3 linked regions of the Homo sapiens genome follow. The protein of the gene in region 3 purifies or fractionates together with the protein of the main gene of each other region. This does not show direct contact. Each region holds a gene or a part of one and is shown on either strand. Other genes may lie near its edges.

Region 1 (7,025 bases), on a different chromosome or scaffold from region 3:
TTAAAAAAAAGCCTGCCAACTATTAATGTTATTTCTTACATAAAAAAAATTAAGCAAAACAAATGAAAAAAGCATAACACCAAAAAAACAAAGGCCAACATATTAAAACAAGTAGTTGAGATTCCTAACTTTATGTATTTCACTAAGGACGGGTGAAAACCTTGTAATACATTGATGCTACTCCAAGGATGTATGACAAGGAAACTATAGCTGACTACTGCGAAAACTTCCTTTGTCTCCTGGTTTCTTTACATGGTAAAGAACCTTCCATCAATCCCAGCAAACTATAGGCCACAGGCCAAATCCAATCTGCCTTATGGCTTTGTAAATAAAGTTTTATAGGAGCTCAGTCATGCCTGTTTGCTTACATATAATCATGGTGGCTTTCACACTACAACAGCAGACAACAGCAGGGTTAAGTAGATATGACAGAGACCACATAGTCTAAAATATTGCCCACCTGGCCATTTACAGAAAAAGCTTGCTAACCCGTTTTACACCATAACCAGAATGCCTTAATACTCAAATTTAATCTTGTGACTCCCCTGCTCAAATTTCTCCAATGAGCCCCTGCAGCACACATTGTTGGCTCCCTATCAATAGCCATTCCTTATTCTTTCTTGAAGAAGAAATCCAAGTCTATTGGGATATTTATTATCCCAATCCCCCTCCTCAGCCTCAGAAACAGAAATGTTTATTCTAAGCTAATCAGGTATTTACCTTCCCAGTGCCTGGTTTGGGAATGAGCATGTGGTGTGACCCAGCCAGTGAAATGTTACAGGAAGCCCTTTGCATGCTTCTAAGTTTTCTCCCTGTTTAAAAGACACATGTGAAGAAAAGCAGCCCTTGCGATGTTGTGTTGTGAGAACAAGATGTTTGGAGCTGCTGCGGATTAGCCAACCATGAAAGGAGACGTGAATAAAACACTGTCAACAGCACAGCTGAAAGAGGGAAAAGTGGGATCCTAGGATATCAATGAACAACCAAAACAACTCTGGTTCCTACTGTTTTAGCCACTGTTCATCTAGTATTTGCAGTCCAAAGCATTCTACCCAGTAAATTTCCCATGGCACACAGGATAAGACCTACTCATTTCTATAGTATTAAAAAGTCTATCATAAACTTGCCTTAGCTAAGTATTCACCTCATTCCCAACCTCTCGTATCACACACTTTTGGTACTAGCAAAAGTGAACTGCTCAGAAACCCTGCCATGTTCACTCAAGCATCTTGTCTTTTGCACTTGCTGCTCTTCCTCCCAAACAGGCAATCTCATTAGATGTTCCTTCTGGCAAACACACGACCTCGCTGCATGTTCCTTCTGCCAAACATTCTTCTTCTGCTTCTTTACCTAGAAAAATTCTTCTCTCTCTGCATGCTTACCTTAAATCATACCTACTTTTTCCCAAAACTTTCATTCCTCATCACATATGTCTGGCACATAATCAATATATAATAAATCATAATTATAAGCTTCCAGTGGGCATCTAGCACACAGTAAGCACTGAATAAAGTAGTAAAATAATGAAAATGACAATGATAACAAAAAGCTCCTGTCTGTATTTTTAATTGTTTGTGGTCTATAGCATTAGAAAAATGGTTACTATCTAAAAGACATTTGATAGTTATATGTTAAGTGGACAAGTGAAAACATAAATAGAAATGTTTTCTTTGTAAATTCTGTTGAAAAAGCACAGAAATGAAATGGAGACAGCTCTATTATGAGCACCTTAAAGATCAAAACTACATCTATTCCATCTTTGTCTCCTGCAACTTATAAAACCTAACTTACAAAAGCTCTTTGATAAATAGATGACTAAATTAAAGGTGTCCTCACACAGTTTGGACAATATAATGTATTAGGTGTCCACAACCAGGTAGCATACTAGCATTTTTGTTAGCGTGAAACGTTTTTCTGCTTTTATTATAATCTGCTGAGCCTAGAGTTGGGCAATTTGTATATTTATTATGACAATCTTTTGGCAAATGGTAGCAGAGCATCTTGTTCTAACAAAATTACTGTTATGATGACAATTAACCAGCAGGTAGAAGAACACATCTTGTTCCAACAAAGTAAATATATCTCTTTCCAACTTCAAATGAGGAGGAATGAAGTCAGTAATAGTGAGAACTTATTGGGACAAGCATATGTAACATGACTTGTGCTTCAGTGTTCTTTTGTGATCAAAAATTCCTTACTTTTACTTTTTTATCTATGGTAGGACCACGCAGAGCAGGGGTCCTCAACTCCCAGGCCACAGACTCATACCAGTCCATGGACTATTATGAACCACACCACACAGGAGGAGGTGAGCAGCAGGCAAGCCAGGGAAGCTTCATCTGTATTTACAGCCACTCCTTATGGCTCATATTACAGCCTCTACTCTGCCTCCAGTCAGATCAGTGATAGCATTAGATACTCATTGGAGCATGAACCCTGTTGTGAACTGCCCATCTGAGGGATCTAGGTTGTGTGCTTCGTATGAGAATCTAATGCCTGATGATCTGTCACTGTCTCACTTTGCCCCCAGATGAGACCATCCAGTTGCAGAAAAATAAGTTCAGAGCTTCCACGGATTCTACATTATGGTAAGTTGTATAATTATTTCATTATATATTACAATGTGATAATAATATAAAGTAGCACAATAAATGTAACATGATTGAATAATCCTGAAACCATCCCCACCCTCCCCCAGCCCATGGAAAAATTGTCTTCCACAAAACCGGTCCCTGGTGTCAAAAAGATTGGGGACAACTGACTAAAGTAATTCACTATCACAAGTCTTACCTGGATTGCTGTTTTCAGAAGAGATTTTTAGCATCTGTTTTTCTTTGTAGTCAGAAAGTAACTGGCAAATTCTATGTATAAAAATGTAATAAACCAAATTACTATTTTAATACTGATATAAAAAAACTTACCAAATGTAGAATTATTAAGAGTATTTCAAACAATATCAGAATAACAGAACTTAATAGTATTATCCCACCCACTTGTGAGTACATTCTACAAACTTCTCTTTAAGCTTCTAATTAAAGAAGAAAAAAATGTAAGGTGAAATAGTCATAAATCGAGGGCACTGTGACCCAGTAAATTAGCTAGCATTAGCATGACATAATAGAAAGTGTCCCAACTCTGCATAAGTCCTAGCTCCATAATGAACAGCTATTTGTTCTTGGACAACTTGCTTCTCTTAGGCTCAATGTCTTCTTCAACAAAGTGAGGACTTTGCTGCCTTATTTCACTAGGTTGTTATAAAGATTTAACGAGATAACATTTTTTAAATGCTCAGAGAAATAGTAAAGCAATGGAATAATCTGTTCCTAAACTTTATGACTAAAATTATCTTGGAATCCCAAATAAAACCCAATGCGTATTTTGTTCATAGGTTCTAATATGCAAATGTTGTAGTTTTCAGAAAATGTTATTAAGTCCTAATTTTGCTTCTTAGTTGTCCTACTCTTTATGGCTTATAATTCAGGGCATCTCAACTATGTCATAGTTTATAACTAAATTTATTCATAAATATCTCATTAAAGTAGATAATGTGATTGTCCACTATTACGGAGTTGATCAATCACACCAAGGGCAGAAAAACCAATGGATGTTAAGACCTGACTTGGACCAACGATCCTTCTCTACCGACTCAAACTCTCAGCCAGTAGATGTCTGTTAGGATAATGCTTTATATTGATGTTCAATTCCAGCTGACATGGGAGACCAAAAGTCTACTTTTATTTTTTTTTTAGTTTCCACGGAGAAGTAGCAAGCTGACATTCTGTAATTTTCGACATACATACTAACAATATATTTTGCACGGAACATGTTATTCAGCTCAAAGTCATCTCATAGACCATCTTACATGACTATTTTTGCAGCACAAATCACAATTTCAATATTTGGGTGGCACCCATTTTGCTTTGATTCACACTATTTCCTCAGAGCTAGTCAGCAAAAATAGTCAAATGACCTTCCAGTGACTGCACAAAATATGGAATGCTTCAAAGATCTGTCCTGCCTCCTTATGCAGAAGCCACGCTAACTTTCCCCGTATTGTTCCAATTTTAGGATATGTGCCGCCGAAGCAAGCACAAAGCCCTACTTTTACATATGATTAGTGATGCGTCATGGACAAGGCTTGGCTCTGTGAAGTCCAACTAACCTACTTGAGATTCTGAGAATTCTCTTCAATGGCTTCCTGTGAGCTAGAGTTTGAAAATATCTTAAAATCTTGAGCTAGAGATGGAAGTAGCTCCGATAATTTTCATTATCATGTAAATCAGATCACTCAAGGGGCCAACCACAGCTGGGAGCCACTGCTCAGGGCAAGGTTCATACGGGACTTTCTACTGCCCAAGGTTCTATACAGGATATAAAGGTGCCTCACAGTACAGATCTGGTAGCAAAGAGGAAACAGACACTGACCTCCTTCTGCCACATTATTTGAACCCCTCTCACCCTTTAGAACAAGCCCACCTAACATCTGCCAGAGAAAAGACCAACAACAGCCTCAAAGGATCTCTTACCATGAAGGTCTCAGCTAATTCCTGGCTAAGATGTGGGTTCCACATTAGGTTCTGAATATGCGGGGAAGGGTCAATTTGGTCACTTTGTGTGCGGATAAAGTCAGGATGCCCAGCGGCCAGAGCAGGGGGCTGGTGCTCTGGGAACAATGGCTGAGCATATAAGCATAGGTATGGGAATTAAAAAACATCAAAGTCACTGTATGAATCGCCATGAAGACTTGAGGGATCTGAATCTACTGATTCATCTTAAGGCAGCAGGACCAGTTTGAGTGGCCACAAAGCAGCAACAGAATCAACGGAAACAACAGAATGATTGCAATGTCTTTTTTCCTCCTCCTTCTGACTTGATAAAAGGGACTGTCTTCCTTGGATTTAGTGAACTCCTTCGGTTCTTGAAAAATTCAAGGAGTATGTAGGACATAGTCCCCAGAAGACAGTACAAGACTTTCCGCTAAACTGGACATTTCAAGACCCAAATAACTAATCAGAAAAATTAAAGATGTGACACTATTTTTTATCCCTGCATAGGTGTTACACTTGGATCAAATGAACAATGCTGGGATCTCTAAGGATAAAGATCTTAAAAGTCCTGAGATAAAGAATCCCGCACCCATTGGTACTTCTAACTTGTCTTGCTTTTTGTCTGATTTCTGGCTGATGCAGGGGACTAAAACTCACTGCCACGCGAAAACTACCTGAACCAAACTATGACATCTCACCTGATATGTGAGATGCAACTGTTATAATTATTTTAAACCTCAATTCAGCATTAACTAGCCTTTTAATGTAAACACTTACACATGATGATGACTAGAAACAGCATACTCTCTGGCCGTCTGTCCAGATAGATCTTGAGAAGATACATCAATATTTTGCTCAAGTAGAAGGCTGACTATACTTGCTGATCCACAACATACAGCAAGTATGAGAGCAGTTCTAAAATGACAGAGATAGGAACTGTAATAAAGTTATTTTTAAAGCTAATTTGATATACTTTACCAATGTAACATCTTGCCTGTCTGTGCAGAATCAAACATTTACATGCACTAAAAGACATAAGCAACCTGAGTGCTCAAGTGTTCATCTTTGTAAAATGCCACCAAGGTTAAAAGGAAGGGACCAAAAAAAACCCTCTTATCTCAGTGGGGTATTGCATAGCAGAAGCTACTAATTTAAAGTCCTTTGATGGGCAAGAAACAATGTTAGGGCCACTTATCTGAGGTGGACAAAGATTTAAGTGAAGATTTTGTCACAGCTTCCCTAGACTGACATGCTGTAATAGAAAATCAGCTAGGGGGTAAGAGAAATAAGAGCTCTCTGCATGCTCAAAGCAGTAATAATAATGGTAAGAATAGTAGTCATAGGAGTTTCAGTTAATGGTGCCAATAACCATGTGCTAGGCACTGAATTAAATGCCACATATATCTTTCTTACTTATGCACAGCCAACTTTGAAGGATATATTCTCCTACTTTTCATATATGACAACATATTTGGTGGTAAATAACGTCCCCAAGGTCACACACCTAGCAAGTAAGAAAGTTACTAATTAAACCCAGTCTTGTGTGAATCCAAAGCCTAGCTCTTTTCTCTTTATCACCCACGTACGGCTTGTCTTCATTAAAGGAAAAGTGTATCCACTTAAAACTATCTTCACTCCCTCTCTCCATACCAATTAAAAATAAAAACATCAAAATACACTGGAAAAACAAAAGGAAAAAAGCTGTTGAACCCACAGTATGTGGGAACAGCAATTAATTGTTATGTAGGGATAAGCTAACACTAATATTCTTCAAAGAAAGCAACTTAAAGCAAAGTCATTAAAAAGACAAAAGGATTTTCAACCCCTATTTATGTTTAATACAGCATATTTAATGGAAAAGCATGTAAGACACAGGTTAAAAACTATTAGAAAGGGTTAAGAAGTTCAATACTGAGTCATAAAGTAAACTAAAAGTTAAAGTTCAAACTTCATAAAATTAATATGAAATCCTTTAAGCTAACATAAGATCATGTAACCAAAAATGTCACATAACAAATAACATCAGTCAATATAATAAGAGAAGATGAATCCTACTAAAACTGTTCTTTATGTTGCCCAGCCCAAGTAATTGTTTTTCTACCTAACTGATTTGTGTTGATACTGATCACTACATCCCAGTAAGTATACATTAATCTTATTAATTTAATATTTATGACTTGAGTGACTGCTGTCCATCTACAACACACAGATTAAAAGAAAGAACTATACCTTCCATATCTATCCAGTGCATTTAAATTCGCTTTTTTCTTAATTAAAAATTTCACGACTTGCTGTTTTTGCTCATGTACACCAAGTAACAGTGGTGTGAGGCCATGCTGTAAAACAATATAAAGCAAAAACCTATGTAATTCAAAAAAGTACATATTCCTCAACCGAAGTGGAAACTTTATATAAGATCTTATGGACTTACACGCATAGAAGTAAATAAAATGTAGTCACTTCCTTCTCACTCTTCTG
Region 2 (7,025 bases), on a different chromosome or scaffold from region 3:
ACACATACTAGGTGCTCAATCATTACTTGCCATGTGGAATAACGAATGTTTCCCTTTGGCGTGTGGGGAGCAAAGGCTGTCCTGGACTCATTCTCCAAAGCCATTCCCACAGGTAGGGTGTTGATCACTGACGTGTACCTGCCATCAGGATCCTCGCTCCCACCTGCCCAGAGGGATGTGGCACTGTCACAGTGAGCAGAGGCTCCCAGCAACCCCGACCACAGAGAGGAAAAGACCCAGCGTGTTCTCCTCCTTCTCCCCCTTCCACATTCTCTGCTCCTCTCCTTCCCGGTCCACTCCACCCCACTCCTCCCTACCTCTTCTGCCGTTTTCGTCCCCTTTTTCATTTCTGTCCTCCACTCCTACCAAAATCAAAACAGAGGACAGGCTGCTCGTCACCACCAGGCTGTGGTTCAGCACACAGTCATGACCCTCGAGACCACATACACCTGTCATGTCTCATGAGGAAAAATGCAGAGACCCTGACCAAGCGGGCCACCGTCGCGGGACATGACCCTTGAAATCAGTCTACCTCTCAGGCATGCCCTCAGGTGGGCACCAGCTTCACGCGGCCACAGCAGCCATGCAACTGCAAGGGAAGCTGCTGGCCAGTCTGCTAGCAACCCAGGCTGTGGTGGGGAGGAGACCAAAGGCTGATACTGGATTCAGAGGATATTTAGTCACTACTTTTCTTTCCTCGGGACCCAAGGAGCATTTACAGGGACCTATAAGAGCAAAGAGTCACTTTACTTTTCTTTCCTCGGGACCCAAGGGGCATTTACAGGGACCTATGAGAGCAAAGTGCAGTCTCCTTTCAAGGAAAAGTAAGAAGAGTAAATGAGTAAGAAATTGCAAGGGTTGCCCTTACATAGTTGCCCAACTCATTGCTTGAATTAAACAAAAAAGTATTTTGTTTAAACTATGTCATCCATGCACCTACTGGGTTATGGTAGGACAAAGATCCTACCAAGAACTTCCAAGGCTTGTTTAGTTCTTGTATTTGTTCTAATATTTATTCTCCTTGTGACTGCTGACTAATATGCACCATCCCGTGCATGCCTCTGATGTACTAGGCAAGGGCTGAGCGTTCTGCAGGGACTAACGCATTTACATCTGAACAACAGCCCAATGAAGCAGGTTTAACTAAGCTCCTTGTTTAATGGGTGAGGCAGCAGACGATTAGAGAGGATAAATAACTGTTCTGAGAACTCGCAGGAGGTAAGCATAGGAGTACTACCTGGGAGTTAACTGAGCCCAGCGCCTCTGCTCTTAACCATGAAGCTCCAAGCCTCACAGGCACTGCACACAAGCTCCTTAGAAAGATTGCCCACCCCAGAGAGGCGGCAGGAAGCTGGGCCTTACCAGTTGTGATCAGATAGGCATCGGGGACTGTGATATCACAAACATATGGCGGCTTGGCAGTAGCCAGTGTTGGTGTGTCGACTGTTGCTTCGAGAGTGAAGGCAGTCACGGGACGCAGGGATGGCAGGGGAGGAGCAGCACTACTCTCTGGGGGGCTCTGACTTGCGGCGTCACCCATCAGGGTGGAGTCGAGGGGACCACCAGTGGCAGCACCGGTGCTGGTTGTGCTCACTTCCGTGGAGGTGTTCAGTGGCACCTCTGTGGGTGTGAGTGATGGGCCCACGACGGTCAGCTCTGTGGGCAGAGGGAAGGGGGTTGCTTCAGAAACAAACGAGGATCCTGATGGCAGGTACGCGTCAGTGATCAACACCGTACCAGTGGGAATGGCTTTGGAGAAAGAGGCCAGGACAGACACGTGACCGTCTAGAGCACTGATTTGGTCGTCAGGAGGTGTCAGAGTTGAGAACAAAGAAGACTCAGTTAAAATGGGCGTTGTGTGGACAGTGGTCAATGGTGATGTTGCTTGAATCCCGGCAGTCAAAATGTCAAAAGACTCAGAGCCGGGGGGCACCAGTGCAGTGACTGCGGATTCATGGGAAATGAGTGAAGACTCAAGATAGGAGGTAGTTTCAATGAAAGCTGAGGTAAAATGAGCTTCTGAATCCGTCAGTGAAACCGTAGACGCTTCAACAAACTCGAGAGAATCAGAAGGGAAGCTTGACCATGGTGACACCTCAGAACGGCTAGGTAGCAACATGATGGTGTTTAAAGGCAGCTCGGAACTTGGCTGGAGCTGCGAAAACTCAAGATTTGTGGAACTGGGAAGAGACAGCTGAGATGACTGCAGATCACTAGAGTCAAACAATGTAAATGTCTCAACCAAGGGAGAAAAAGACTGAGATGTGAAGGGGGACAAGTCACTCGGCATCAGAGACAGAGACGCAGGTGCTTCCGAAGGCGAAGAGATGGAGCCGCTGAGTTCCAGCGGGGGTGTTGAGAAAAAGCTGGATGCAAAATCCAAAGCACCTCTGGGTTTATGCTCAGAAAAACTGGAACGTTCTTGGTCAGAGAAAAGTGAAGACTCCACTGAAGGAACCAGACTATAAGGCGTAAAAACACTCGGGTCTCTGACGGCAAGCGACGGTGTGTTTTTGTTTGCTATGACAGAGAAAGATGAGTCAAGGAGAATGCTGGTGATGACCGAGAAAAATGCAGTGGTCACGCTGGATGGCGTCACTTGGGTTTCAGCAACAGACAAGGAGCCAGCAGTAGGATCAAGTGACGCCGGCACAGAGAGGCGGCCGTGGGCAGGGGGAACCTGTGTGGTTGTAACACTACTCATATCCACCTCGGCAGAAATGCCAACACTCGTCTCTGAGATTTCCATGGATCTAGAAGAAAGTGGGACGATAGGTCTGGAGGGGAAAAGCGTATTAAATACTTGAGGATCTTCCTCAAATTCAGAGAAGTCTGCTACGACGCTACTCATTAGAGAGATGCTGCTTTCTTCCAGCACGGTCATGCACAGAGTCTCGGCACCATCCCCTGATCCCACGTCTTTCTCCATGAGGCTCGTGGCCAGAACTTGCTGAGGTGAAGGCACAGTGCAGGCCGCACACCAAGTGTATGGTCTGAATGAGGACACCGGGCTCAGGATATGAGTGTTGTCCACAGGACCGGGGAGGGCTGAATTGCTATGCAATTCGGATGTTTTGCTGGAGTCGCTAGGGAGAAAGGGGTTAGATGAAACATCAGTTGGTGAAGCAGAGGACGCAAATGCAAGAGGAGTTGAAAGCAATGGAGAATGTGTCCTGCTGAATGCAAGGGCTGCGTGCGATGCAGTCACAGTGGGGTATGTTCTTGGAGAGATGGTTTCTTCTAGGCTTTGACTCAACACAGTGGTCACATCAGTGTATCTGTCTGCACTTGTGGCCCAAACCTCCTCTGGAGGCTGTGAGACCTCCCCCAAGGAGGGCAACGGTATAGTAATGCCGTCGCCTAACGGCTGTGGCATTAAAGACCGGGAGCTTAAAAAAAGGGTGGTTTCCACACCCTCTGTTAGGGAAGCCACAATCTCTGGCAGAGTCCTGCTTGATAAATGACTGTAAGCATCAGTAGGATAAAGCACCAAATTCCTGCCAGGAGTTGGAACGATGCCCTCAGAGGTGCGAAAAGCTGACCGAAAGGTGTGGAAATGACTGGCGGACTCAGCATATGCCGCTGGTTGTCGCGTTGTGTTCTGCCAGCCCGATGTCACTTCTTCATCTTGTAAAGAAACCATGGGTAATGATGGAGTGAGCATAGGTTCTAATGCTTCCCTGGGCAGCCCTGGTGGGCTGACTGTGATATACTGTATTGGAGAAACCATCCGTGGAGTGGTCCAGTGAGTATCTGGCAGAAAGTTATCCATCTCATCGTCATTGACGGCCACCTCTTTACTCGTCACTGACACGTAAGTTGCCACAAAGATGCTGGGATCTGCTGTACTTTTGGTCTGTTTTCCTTGGTTAAAAAAGGCTGTATCAAAAGTAGTGGCAGACGGCGGGGCTGTGACATGGAGAGGACTGCTGTGCTGGGAGCCGGGAGCAGTTTCTGTTAAGGCCACTTGTGCAGCGCTGTGCCCAGTGCTTTTCTTCAGCACGAGCTCCATGGAGTATAAAGAAAGGTTGTGCTGTTCCGGAGAGAGCTCATCTATCAAGAAAATCAGAGCTGGGTTAGTGCAATGCATTGGAAGTCACACAGCTAACGTTTTGTTTCAGGCATGAGAATTTACTCATTTAACAAACATCCATTCACCATAAATATCCATGAATCACCGTCAGAAGTTAAACAGCTAGCTGGAAACGAGAAATTGACAGAATTACCATCAGGACAATATCTGCAAATATTCCTAAACTTGGGCACTGTTTTTACCTAAGCTGTGTATGTGTGGGGGTGGGGAGGGCATATTTACAGTTTTTCCCACAGAACCGTAGGATACTGGAAACAGAGGGGGCTGTTCAGTCCATTTTCTCTCATTTATGACATGAGTAAAGAAAGGTTTCCAGAAGGTAAATAAATCAATTATAAGACCACCCAGACAGAGTGGAACTGGAATCTGAATATAAGGCTTCCTTGACTCCAAGGCCTGTGTGTTTTCTCTTCAGTGATAGGAGCTGGCTGCTACGAGAAATGAACATGACAACTCATTGCATCTCTCACTACCCAAGTAAGAGAGTTCCCCAGTTCCTCAGCTGTGCTCCCCAACACAGTTGCTGAGGCTTCCACATGAAGGCCCCAGGCTTCCTGCAGCCTCAGCTTTCACCATTTCCTGCCCCACTCTAGGCCTTCCCAGCTATGCTCTGGCACCTGCAGTGCCCCAAACCCAAACACTCTCTGGCCTCCATGGCTGTGCACATTCTCACCCCCGCCTGGAATGCCCTTCCCAGCTCTCTACATGGATGGATCCTCTCACCCCCGCCTGGAATGCCCTTCCCCAGCTCTCTATATGGATGGCTCCTTCTGGCCCTTCAGATGCAGCACAGATATGAGCTTCATCCTCGATGCTCTGAAGTTGGATTCGTGCCTCTCCCTAGGCTTCTCCCTGTCCTTATCATGCCCACTGAAATGAACTATCTGATCACTAGATTCTGGGCTTCCTAAGGACAGGCATTGTTTACCTGTCTCCCCAGTGCCTAGCACAATAAGTGCTAGGAGCTCAATTGACATCACTTGGATTGATGAATGAATGAATGAATGAATGAATGAAATCCAAGGATACCAAGTTCTGACAACAAAAGCCAACATTATCCCATCATCCATTCAAACTTTTGTATTCCTTAACTTGTGACTGCTGTCATTATCATTTAGTAAGTTGAGGCCTCTCCACCGATAATTCAGGTATGACATAGCCTAGAGAAAAAGGACAAGTGATGGCCCAGCCACTGATGAAAGCCCAGGGCCCAGGGACTGTCCTCTGCAGCCCAGGCTGAGAACTGAGCAACTATCAAAATGCATAACAACACCTCGTTTCTCTAATCCCAACAGTCTATCAGAACATACCTGTGTGAAATGGTATAAGGACAGTCTTGAATTTACTCTATTTTTTTAAGTAAGTCATTTCTATTCTGTTTCTAGCAACATGGCAGACTAGAGATCTTGAAACTGTCTACTTCAGAACATTTAAGATTGCTTAATAAATGTTTAAAAACCATCTTCTAAGTGACTGGATGGCCTGCAAGACAGTAAGGGGAACGTGCTGAATCCAGGAATAAAACAGGAGCTGCTCAAGGGCAGTGACTGGGGACCCAAGGCAGGTACTGGACCAGCTGGCCTGTTGTTTAGGCCACAACGGAGATGAGGGACAAGTGTTAGCCTAGATAAGGAAAGAACCCAACTGAAGACCATTTTCCAAAAGTGGAGGCCCAGGAAGTGTCATAATCTCAGGGAAAGAGTGAATTAGGAAGAAAAATATCCACTTTTCAGAAGACAGCAAAAACAGGCATCGGTTTCTAATAGTGTCTGACTTGAGAACACCTTGGACTGACTTTCCCTTTTCCCTGTTGAACTCTCCTCAGTCTCTCACTTCTGTTCCTCAGGATCATGTCCTAGAATAAAATATGCACATAAACCCACGTCTCAGACTTTGCTTTCTGGCGGAAAACCCAGGTTAAGACACTGCTATGGCTTATGTATTACGTGCTCCCAATATTCCTATGTTGAAATCCCAGGACCTCACAATATGACCATATTCGGAAACAGGGTCAGTGTAGATGTAATTAGCTGAGATGCGGTCATACTGAAGTAGGGTGGGTCCCTCATCTAATATACTGGTGACCGTATAAAAGATGGAAATTTGGGCCAGGCGCGGTGGCTCAGGCCTGTAATCCCAGCACTTTGGAAGGCCGAGGAGGGCGGATCATGAGGTCAGGAGTTCGAGTCCAGCCTGGCCAACGTGGCAAAACCCCATCTCCACTAAAAATACAAAAATTAGCCGGGTATGGTGGCACACACCTGTCATCCCAGCTACTCAGGAGGCTGAGGCAGGAGAATCGCTTGAACCCAGGAGGCGGAGGGTTCAGAGAGCCGTGATTGCACCACTGCACTCCAGCCTGGGAGACAAAGTGAGACTCCGTCTCAAAAAAAAATAAAAATAAAAAAAGGCAGAAATTTGGACACAGACATACACAGAAGGAGAACACCATGTGAAGATGAAGGCAGAGAGCATGATGATGCGTCTACAAGTCAAGGAACAGCAAAGATTGACAGCAAATCACCAGCAGCTAGGGGACAGCCCTGAAGCAGATTCTCCCTCACAGGCTTCAGAAGGAAGCCACCCTTGAACTTGGACTTCTAGCCTCCAGAACGGTGAGACAATCAATTTCTGCTGTTTAAGCCAAACAAGGGAAAAGTATATGTCTCAGCTCTGACTTTGTATAGCTATTGTACGAAACGTCATCCCGAGTGTGGAACCTATACTACTTGTATAGTCCTAACAACTGTATGCTTAGAGTCATAATTTAAAGTGGACCAGGTCTCCAGCGCCTGTCAGAAACTAACATAAATCACACCCAGAAGAACATATTCACAGTCTGGTTTCAAAGTATTCCTGCAGCTAGAGTTGCAGAGCACAGAAGTAAAAATTATAAAATACATAGGAAAGCAAAGTACCATGAACAAAAGTC
Region 3 (7,745 bases):
CCTTGAACCCCTTCTGGTTCCAGGAGCTCTCAGAATTGCTAGCCATGGATTTAGCCTGGGGGTGACTGCAGATGGAGGTGAGGGATTGAGGGAGGGGCCTGCACCCCACCTTGGGCTCAAGGCAAGGTGCACCTTGCTCCTGTTTGTGCCTTGGGAGCAACCTGGGTTTCACACTCTGTTGACCATAAGCCTGGACCCAAGTCACCCACACAGAGCTCTACTGCCTAGCAAGGGACCAGGTTCTGGAACAAAGAATGCGTCCTCAGAGAGCCTCATCCTACCACGTCCCCACACGGAGAGGGTGGGCGCCACGTGCAGCCGCTGCTGCCAGGGAGGATCCGGTTCCACCGTGCGCCTGAGCTCCTGGGGTGTCACACAGCGCTCCACGTGGTTCTGGCCAGAAAGGTGACCCTCCCGTCCCCGATGCCAGCCAAGAGGCAGCCCCCAGCCCGCTCGCTGACCCCAGTGGCTGGGGAGAGTGTATGGGGGCTGGTTCTTGCTTTAGGGTATATTAGCCAGCCATGCCCACTGGTAGAAGCCTGGTTCAAGGGAAGTCTGAGCCAGACTTGATTCTTCTCCTGCCAGGGAAGGTCTTCCTCCCCAGTGTTCCCTCAGCAGGGGATCGGGACCGCACTCTCAGGTCCAGCCTGCGGAGTGGGCACAGAGGACCTGGCCCCGGACACCCACACGGAAGCCTAGACACGTCAGTGAAAGTCCAAGTCATAGGGACATTTGAGCTTGTCCCATCTACACTGGGACATCCCCACCAAGTGCTCCGCAGGCATCATCTTGAATGCGTCCAGGCATGGGGAGCTCACCCCCTAAGGCAGCGCCCTTTCTGAGTTTTTGTGCACGTCTGCCTTATGCCATGCTTAGGGGGACCCAAAACCACCCAAGGCAGGTGCCTGCTGTTCATTCTCCCATGTTCCCTGCAAATCCACATGCAGAGCTCAGGGCTCAGGATTCGGGTGCCCTCTGTGCCCTGAAGTAGACCAGTCCAAGTCCCAGCCCCACTCCTTACTGGTTTGTCAAGTAGGAAAGCCTGTGACCTCTTTGAGTCTCAGTTTTCCCATATGAGGCAGGTGCAGAAGAAAGCGGTCACCTCAATTTTCAGGTGAGAAGGTGGAGGGACACAGAGCTTAGAAGTCGTGCCAGTAGCTGAGCAAAGCTGGTATTGGATCAAGGACTAGGAGACAGAGCTACAGAAGCATGTCCAAATGTGAGCTCATGAAATAGTTAGGAAAGACCCTCCCTCCATTTCAGAACCCTGTTGGGCCCTGGGAGTCAGCTCTGTTCCTGGCTCTAGCAGGGGCCTGACCCAGGCTCTTGATCTAGGAACCACGGTGGGGGTGTTGCCCAACTCTGCATCCAGTTTCATAAAGAGCAAGAGCCAGTGCCCCTGCCATGCCTGGCCTCCCCACCCGGCCCGCACCTACCTCTCTCTCCAATGACACCTGCCTCTCCCTTTGGCCCTGGGGCCCCGGGCAGCCCCGGGCAGCCTCGGAGAATGGTGAGCTTGTCAGAGCCCTCCAGGCCCACCACCTTCACCTCTGCAGAGAAACACAGGTGCCCACTCAGTGCCTGGCCCAACAGTGGCTGGGAAGTGAGGTTTTCTGCTCTGCTGGGGCCTTGGTCTGTCCTCACCCCTCAGGCACTGGTGAGGCGGAGATGTGATGGGGGGCAGAGCTCTGGCTTTGGAGGCCACCCCGACCTAGGGGAGCCCCATCTCCTCAGTGCTGTGTGTCCTGCAGCAAGTAACTTAACTCCTCTGAGCTTTGTGCCCTGGGCTGCCAAGCGGGGATAATAACAAGGTTGCGGCCAGGATTTGGTTAAAGAATGTGCATTTTAAATCTCTTATTGTAATTTATGGCATTTAGAAAGAGCTTAATAAACAGCGGGCACTTTCAATAACTAATGACAATCAATATTTCTAAGAAACTTGGGGAATTGGGGCTGACAAAGCATTTTCCCTCCCAGACCTTGGGAATGTGGTTGTAGAATTACTGGGCTGGAAGGGGCTTTCTAGGTCCTCTGGAGAGGGGCAGTGTGGGGTCCAAGGACACAGAGCCAGGTGTGGCACAGCTGCAGCCAAACCAAAGTTGTTTACTTCTTTGAAAAAATATTTTTCATTTTGTTCATTACAAAATCTACACGCCCTGCTAAGGGCGCTCTTAGAGACCATGGAACGGAGCAGTGCTCTCACCGGAGACATGGCACTGCCATTTTTGGGGTATTTCCTTTCTGTGTTTCCAGTCCTCCTTCCACTAGAGCAGGCTGTAATTTACTATTTATGTTTCCTTCATAAATATGTTATCAGCCAGGGGCACCAGGCCGTCCTTAGGAGCAGTCTCTTGCTGAGCGTCACAGAACCACCTGCTCCTGAATCAGTGAGGGAAACACCTTACCACCGTTCAAACCCTTGTCCCTATCAACTGATTCCGACTCTCTTGGAGGAGAGCCAGAAATCTGCCTTTTTAACAAACCCCCCAAGTCCGTGTGGCAGCCACCGTATTAGAGGGTCTTAGAGTGCCTCCCTGGTAAGCCCGTAAGAAGATAAAGTCAACAGTATTTTCTTCCTTCTCAGTGACAGATTCCAGACCCACCTATGAAGCTCCAATGGGCAAATCCTGGGCTTTCGAGGCAGACAGACCTGGTGACATCCCTCCCCTATCCCTCCATGACCCTGGGCAATGCCTCAGCTGCCCTGAGCCTCCATGTCCTTGCCTGAGGATAAAACAGATCTGTTGGGCATCTTCACAGGAAGATGTGCATAAAAGGTTTTGCCTGGGACACCCGAGTGTCAGTGAGTGGGGTTGTTACCAGCTTTTAGGGACCAGAAAACCCAGGTCTGTCTCACCTGGACATGTGTCCGCAGCCTGGGCAGGCAGGTTCTTGATATGCAGGAACAAGACTAGCAGGACAGCGAGCCCCCGGGCCATGGTGGCTCCACTCAGCTCCATGCTCTCTGGCCTTTGACTCTGAAGAGTCCCCCAGCTCTAACAGGGCAGAGGAAACCAGCTCTCGCCTTGTGCCACAGTTTCTCAACTCCCTGGGGGACACCCACTTCCTATGGGCTGCTTAGTTGCACCAACAGGAGGTATGAGGTCATCTCAAAGGATGTTTCCTTCCACTAGGCTCCAGCAAGATGCCCACCCCATTGGGCTCTCTTCCCCCAGCAAAGACACCCTGCTCCCAGTCCAGAGAGCTCCTGAGACTCCTCTGCTGGAAAGCATCGGCTTTGCTTGTGGCTTAAGGAGAACACAGCCCCCACACCCCCTTTCCATTCCCCAGCTGTCCCCAAGCAATACTCGGAAACCTTGACCTTAACCTTGGGGGATAAGGAAGGTTTTGCTGAAGACGCTTCCTTGCCTCATCTGTTCCCAGAAAATTCAGGGTTTGTCCGTCATCAGGCACTTATCATGGATGGAGAGGAAAAAAATGTTGAGCACTTGTTATGTCCCAAATACTATTTCCATCATATCATCTTGCACCAGCCCCATTCGGTGGAGTAAATTATTTGAAAGTTACAGCTGGAGAAATTGAAGTCACTCCACTAGTAAGAGCCAGGCATTGGACTCAATTCTGTCTAACGCCTTGTAGATCACTGGGATTGCTCATTTCACCTGAAGGTGGGGATGCCTCTTGTTCCCCCAAATCCCTGAGGCCATGTTCCTACTCCGCATCTCGTGCTGTGAATCATGCTTAGCCAGGCCACGCTGTGGACACTTTGTGCGGGATTTTTAGAACGTATAGAAATAGTCACTAACGAGAGTCAGATGGTAGCAGGACTAAGGAGCAGGGAGAGGTGTTGTTTTGTGGTTTGCAACTTCTCTGAGCCAGCGTGTGTAGACTGGGTTTCCAAACTCAAGGGCTCCCCAGGTGGGAGAGAAGTGGAGGGGCGGCCCAGGGGTGGGGGATCCAGGAGACACAGGACCTTGTGTCCAGGCTCTCTGGGCACCACAACGACTCTCGACTGTGTGTGTTTGTGTGTGTTGGCTCCAGCCTGTTGAGAGACAACGGCAGGAGGCTTCATTGCCTCAGACACCGCTTAGTGTCCCTGAGCTACTGGCCCAGGCGGGAGAGGTCTGGGTGTCAGTGGTGCGGCCTCCTTTCTTGGAGAGGATCCAATTCAGGAGCAGCACTCACCTGGGATTGGGTCAGAACAGGGAGAAAGCCAGCAGGTCTGTGCCCCTCAATTCCATTTGCCAGCTGCCCCCTGGGTGTGAGGGGACCTCCTCTTCCTTGCAACATCAATAGGTTTATTTCAGGTGAGAAGTCAACACCACCTTCAGATATCAAGTCAATGTTCCCAAGAGTATGAAAGAATGCAAGATTCTGGCAAGTTAAAATATCTTAACATTGGATCAACAAAAGTCATTTGATTCCTGGCAATGGCAGTTTAGGTATTTGGGGGCATCCTATTAAGGACAAACAGACAAAACCTTTAAAAAGAGATTTGCTCGAAGGCACCGTCAAGCTAGCTATGTAGTAAAGGATTACTTTGCCAAGCTCTCAGGAGCCACAGAAATCTTAGAGAAGTGAAACTAGTAGTGGGGACCTCTTTTTGCACAGGGATTTGCCAATCTCCAAAAGAGAGGTGAGAAGTTGGGCAGTGATTTCACCATCTTGCAGAGCTGAAGGTCAAAGACTGGGGCCTACGGCCTGCCAAAGGTATGGGTTTGGGGTTGGCTTTCAGAAGGGCTGCACCCTAGCAATAGGATGAGTGAGCAACAACCAACATTCACAAGGGCTGCAAACTGGTTTTGAGACATCTAAGTGTCCCAGGAAAGGAATCTCAACTCCTGGAATTATTGCTCATGCCCCCAGGCTCCTTGCTGAAAGAAACAAAAATCTTCTCTGAAGGAGAATGACATCATCCCAGGTCATTATTTCTGCAAAGTGTTTTATTTTTTTCAAATGAAATGTTAAAACACAATCAACGATAACCAGGCTCATGGGAATAAAAGACAATGTGTATAAGGACCAACAGAAACAACAGAATATAGAAAGAGGTCTTTGGAAGCTGTGGATACAGAAGTTACAACATAATTAACAGGAAAAATGGAAAACCATCCTCAGAGACTGAGAACAAATAAGGATGCTTGTCATCACCACTGTGGTCAACATTGTATTGCATGTCACTGTCCAGTGCAGTAGGCAAGAGAACAAAACCATAAAAAGATTGGAAAGGCAGACACAAAGTTGTTATTTTCAGAAGACATGATTGAGGATGTAGAAAATTCTAGAGTTTCTACAGATAAACTAGCAGAATAAAAAGTTTAGCAAAAATCAATTGTGCTTCTAAAAACTAGCCTCAAAGAATTTAAAAATGAAATTTAAAAAATTTGCATCAGCAACACCAAATTCAAATAACTGTGAATAAGTCTAACAACATCCATGCTGGTCTTCTGTGTACAAAACTATCAAATAGGAACAGAAAGACCTAAAAGAAGATTAAAATAATTAGAAGGATATTCTATATGTGTGGATTAGAATACCAAATATAGGAAAAACATTCATCTTCTCTTAATTTATCTAAATATCCACTGTATTATCAATTAAACTACCATTTTCTGTGACAATTGACATGGTGAATTTAAAATTTATATAAAGGGCCGGGTGCAGTGGCTCACACCTGTAATCCCATCACTTTAGGAGGCTGAGACAGGTAGATTACTTGAGGTCAGGAATTCAAGACCAGCCTGGCCAACATGGTAAAACCCTGTCTCTACTAAAAATACAAAAATTAGCTAGGCATGATGGTGGGCACCTGTAAACCCAGCTACTTAGGAGGCTGAGACAGGAGAATTGCTTGAACCCAGGAGGCGGAGGTTGCAGTGAGCCAAGATCGAGCCACTGTACTCCAGCCTGGACGACAGAGTGAGATTCCATCTCAAAAAATATATAATATATATATTTAGCAGGGTGTGGTGGTACATGCCTGTAGTCCCAGCTACTCAGGAGGCTGAGGTGGGAGAATTGCTTGAACCCGGGAGGTGGAGGTTGCAGTGAGCCGAGATTGCACCACTGCACTCCAGCCTGGGCAACAGAGTGAAACTCTGTCTAAATAAATAAACAAATAAATAAATAAATAAATAAAATTTATATAAAGGCAAGAGGCTGATAGCCATGCTATTCTTGAGCAAGAAAAAACAAGGGTGAGTTGCTTGAAGTGACACCAGCAGTCATTATCAAGCGATAGTGATGGAGACAGTGTGGGGCTGGCTTAGGCGTACACAGCAAACCTAGGGAAGTGAGTAGGGAGTGCAGAAGCAAATCCAGGCACATACGGACCCTAGATTTATGACATGGTGGCTCTAAAGAGCAATAGTGAAAGAATAAACTTTCAATGAGTGGCACAAACTACTGGAGAGTCATATGGAAAAACAAGAAGTTACACTTGACTTTTATCAGATGAAAAAAAAATCCACATCAGGAGAAGGGTAGACCCAAATGTGAGAGGGAAAACAGCAGTTTTAGATCATATTATAAGATCTCCAATAGCCTTGCAGTTATTTTAAATAAGATGGAAAACCACAAACCATAAAGGACAAGTGGAAAAATTGATCATGAAAATAGTATTATTTCTTTTTCAAAATACACCACCGTGGGAGGGAAAAGACGAGCCAGGGTGAGGGAAGAGAGGTTTCAACACACAGAAGTGACAAAAGGCTTGTATCCAGAATAAAGGGTTTCTGTAAATCAACGATGTTGTAGAAAGTGGGAAAGTGACTTCAACAAACGCTTATAAAAGATAATATTTAATAGATGATGGAAGTATGAAAACATGCTCAACTTCATAACTAATCCAAGAAATGAAAACTTAAATCTCATGAGATGACTGCAGACACTAAAATTTTTCTAAACAGCCAACTCTGCAAGGTTTTGGTGAAGAAGTGTCAGAAACCTTGGTACAAGCACTTCGGAAAACTGGCAGTATTCCCAACAATTCCCTACGACCAGCATATTCCATAACCAGCGATGTTCAGCTCAGTTCTACTCAACAGAGAGGTGTGCCCAGCTGGAAAGAAGACACGTGTGAAAATGTCCAGCCCCACGCCGGAAACAACCCAAACGTCCATCCGCAGCAGAATGGGGCCGTCAGCTGAGGTTCGTTCATACTGGAGCATCCTGTAGACCCATAAAATGATCGGATTCCAGCTTCACGCAAAAGCTTTGTTGAAATCCGCAAGCACACGGAGCATCCAGGGCGCCAGCACTAAGGCATGCGAACTGTTCATTTGCATCTGTACAGAGTTTGAAAGTGGGCAAAACTGAACAGCAGTGTGAAGGAATGCATGCTCGGTGGCAACGTGGAGAAAAAGGCCCAGACCATGCCAGTGAGATGACCGCTCCCTTAGCAGGGGCCAGTGAGACGACCGCTCCCTTAGGAGGGGGAGCCCTTAGGCCTGGAAGGGGCACGGGGGGCTGGAGATGGGTTTTGGCTTCATTGGGTGATGCAGGTTTAGTTTATGCACTCTGGTGAATGGGTGTTAAATTTCACTTAAAAGAGCAAGCTTAAATAAACTATTTAAGTAAAATAAATAGAACACATAAGGGTCACCATCGTCCTGTATTGCTCCCACCACAAGCTATAGCCCAGCTGTCTCTGGGAGGTTTGGGGATGTTGAATGCCTGCTGGTTCACTTCCCTGTTGCAGCTCAGGCTTCTGGGAGGTTGAGCAACCCCTAGCCTGGCTGTTGCTTCACGTGCTGGGTCTGCAGCCTGAGATGAGCCTTGGAAGG

What was found. Proteins that work in one complex are often made in the same cells at the same time.
Region 1: the proteins of FCN1 (region 3) and POTEF purify together in Homo sapiens (affinity purification with mass spectrometry; 3 studies listed by BioGRID and IntAct, with this or other methods). This does not show direct contact.
Region 2: the proteins of FCN1 (region 3) and KIAA1549 purify together in Homo sapiens (affinity purification with mass spectrometry; 3 studies listed by BioGRID and IntAct, with this or other methods). This does not show direct contact.

Annotation. Positions count from the first base shown.
Region 1 is NC_000002.12:130,105,219-130,112,243, forward strand, and holds part of POTEF (POTE ankyrin domain family member F), read right to left. Parts: intron 6,884-7,025; coding exon 6,777-6,883; intron 5,463-6,776; coding exon 5,325-5,462; intron 5,140-5,324; exon of another isoform or gene 4,069-5,139; intron 2,867-4,068; exon of another isoform or gene 2,862-2,866; coding exon 2,791-2,861; intron 2,589-2,790; exon of another isoform or gene 2,369-2,588; intron 1-2,368.
Region 2 is NC_000007.14:138,915,386-138,922,410, forward strand, and holds part of KIAA1549 (UPF0606 protein KIAA1549), read right to left. Parts: intron 4,054-7,025; coding exon 1,363-4,053; intron 1-1,362. UniProt on the Homo sapiens protein: May play a role in photoreceptor function.
Region 3 is NC_000009.12:134,914,912-134,922,656, forward strand, and holds the start of FCN1 (ficolin-1 precursor), read right to left. Parts: upstream 3,002-7,745; 5' UTR 2,961-3,001; coding exon 2,858-2,960; intron 1,551-2,857; coding exon 1,437-1,550; intron 1-1,436.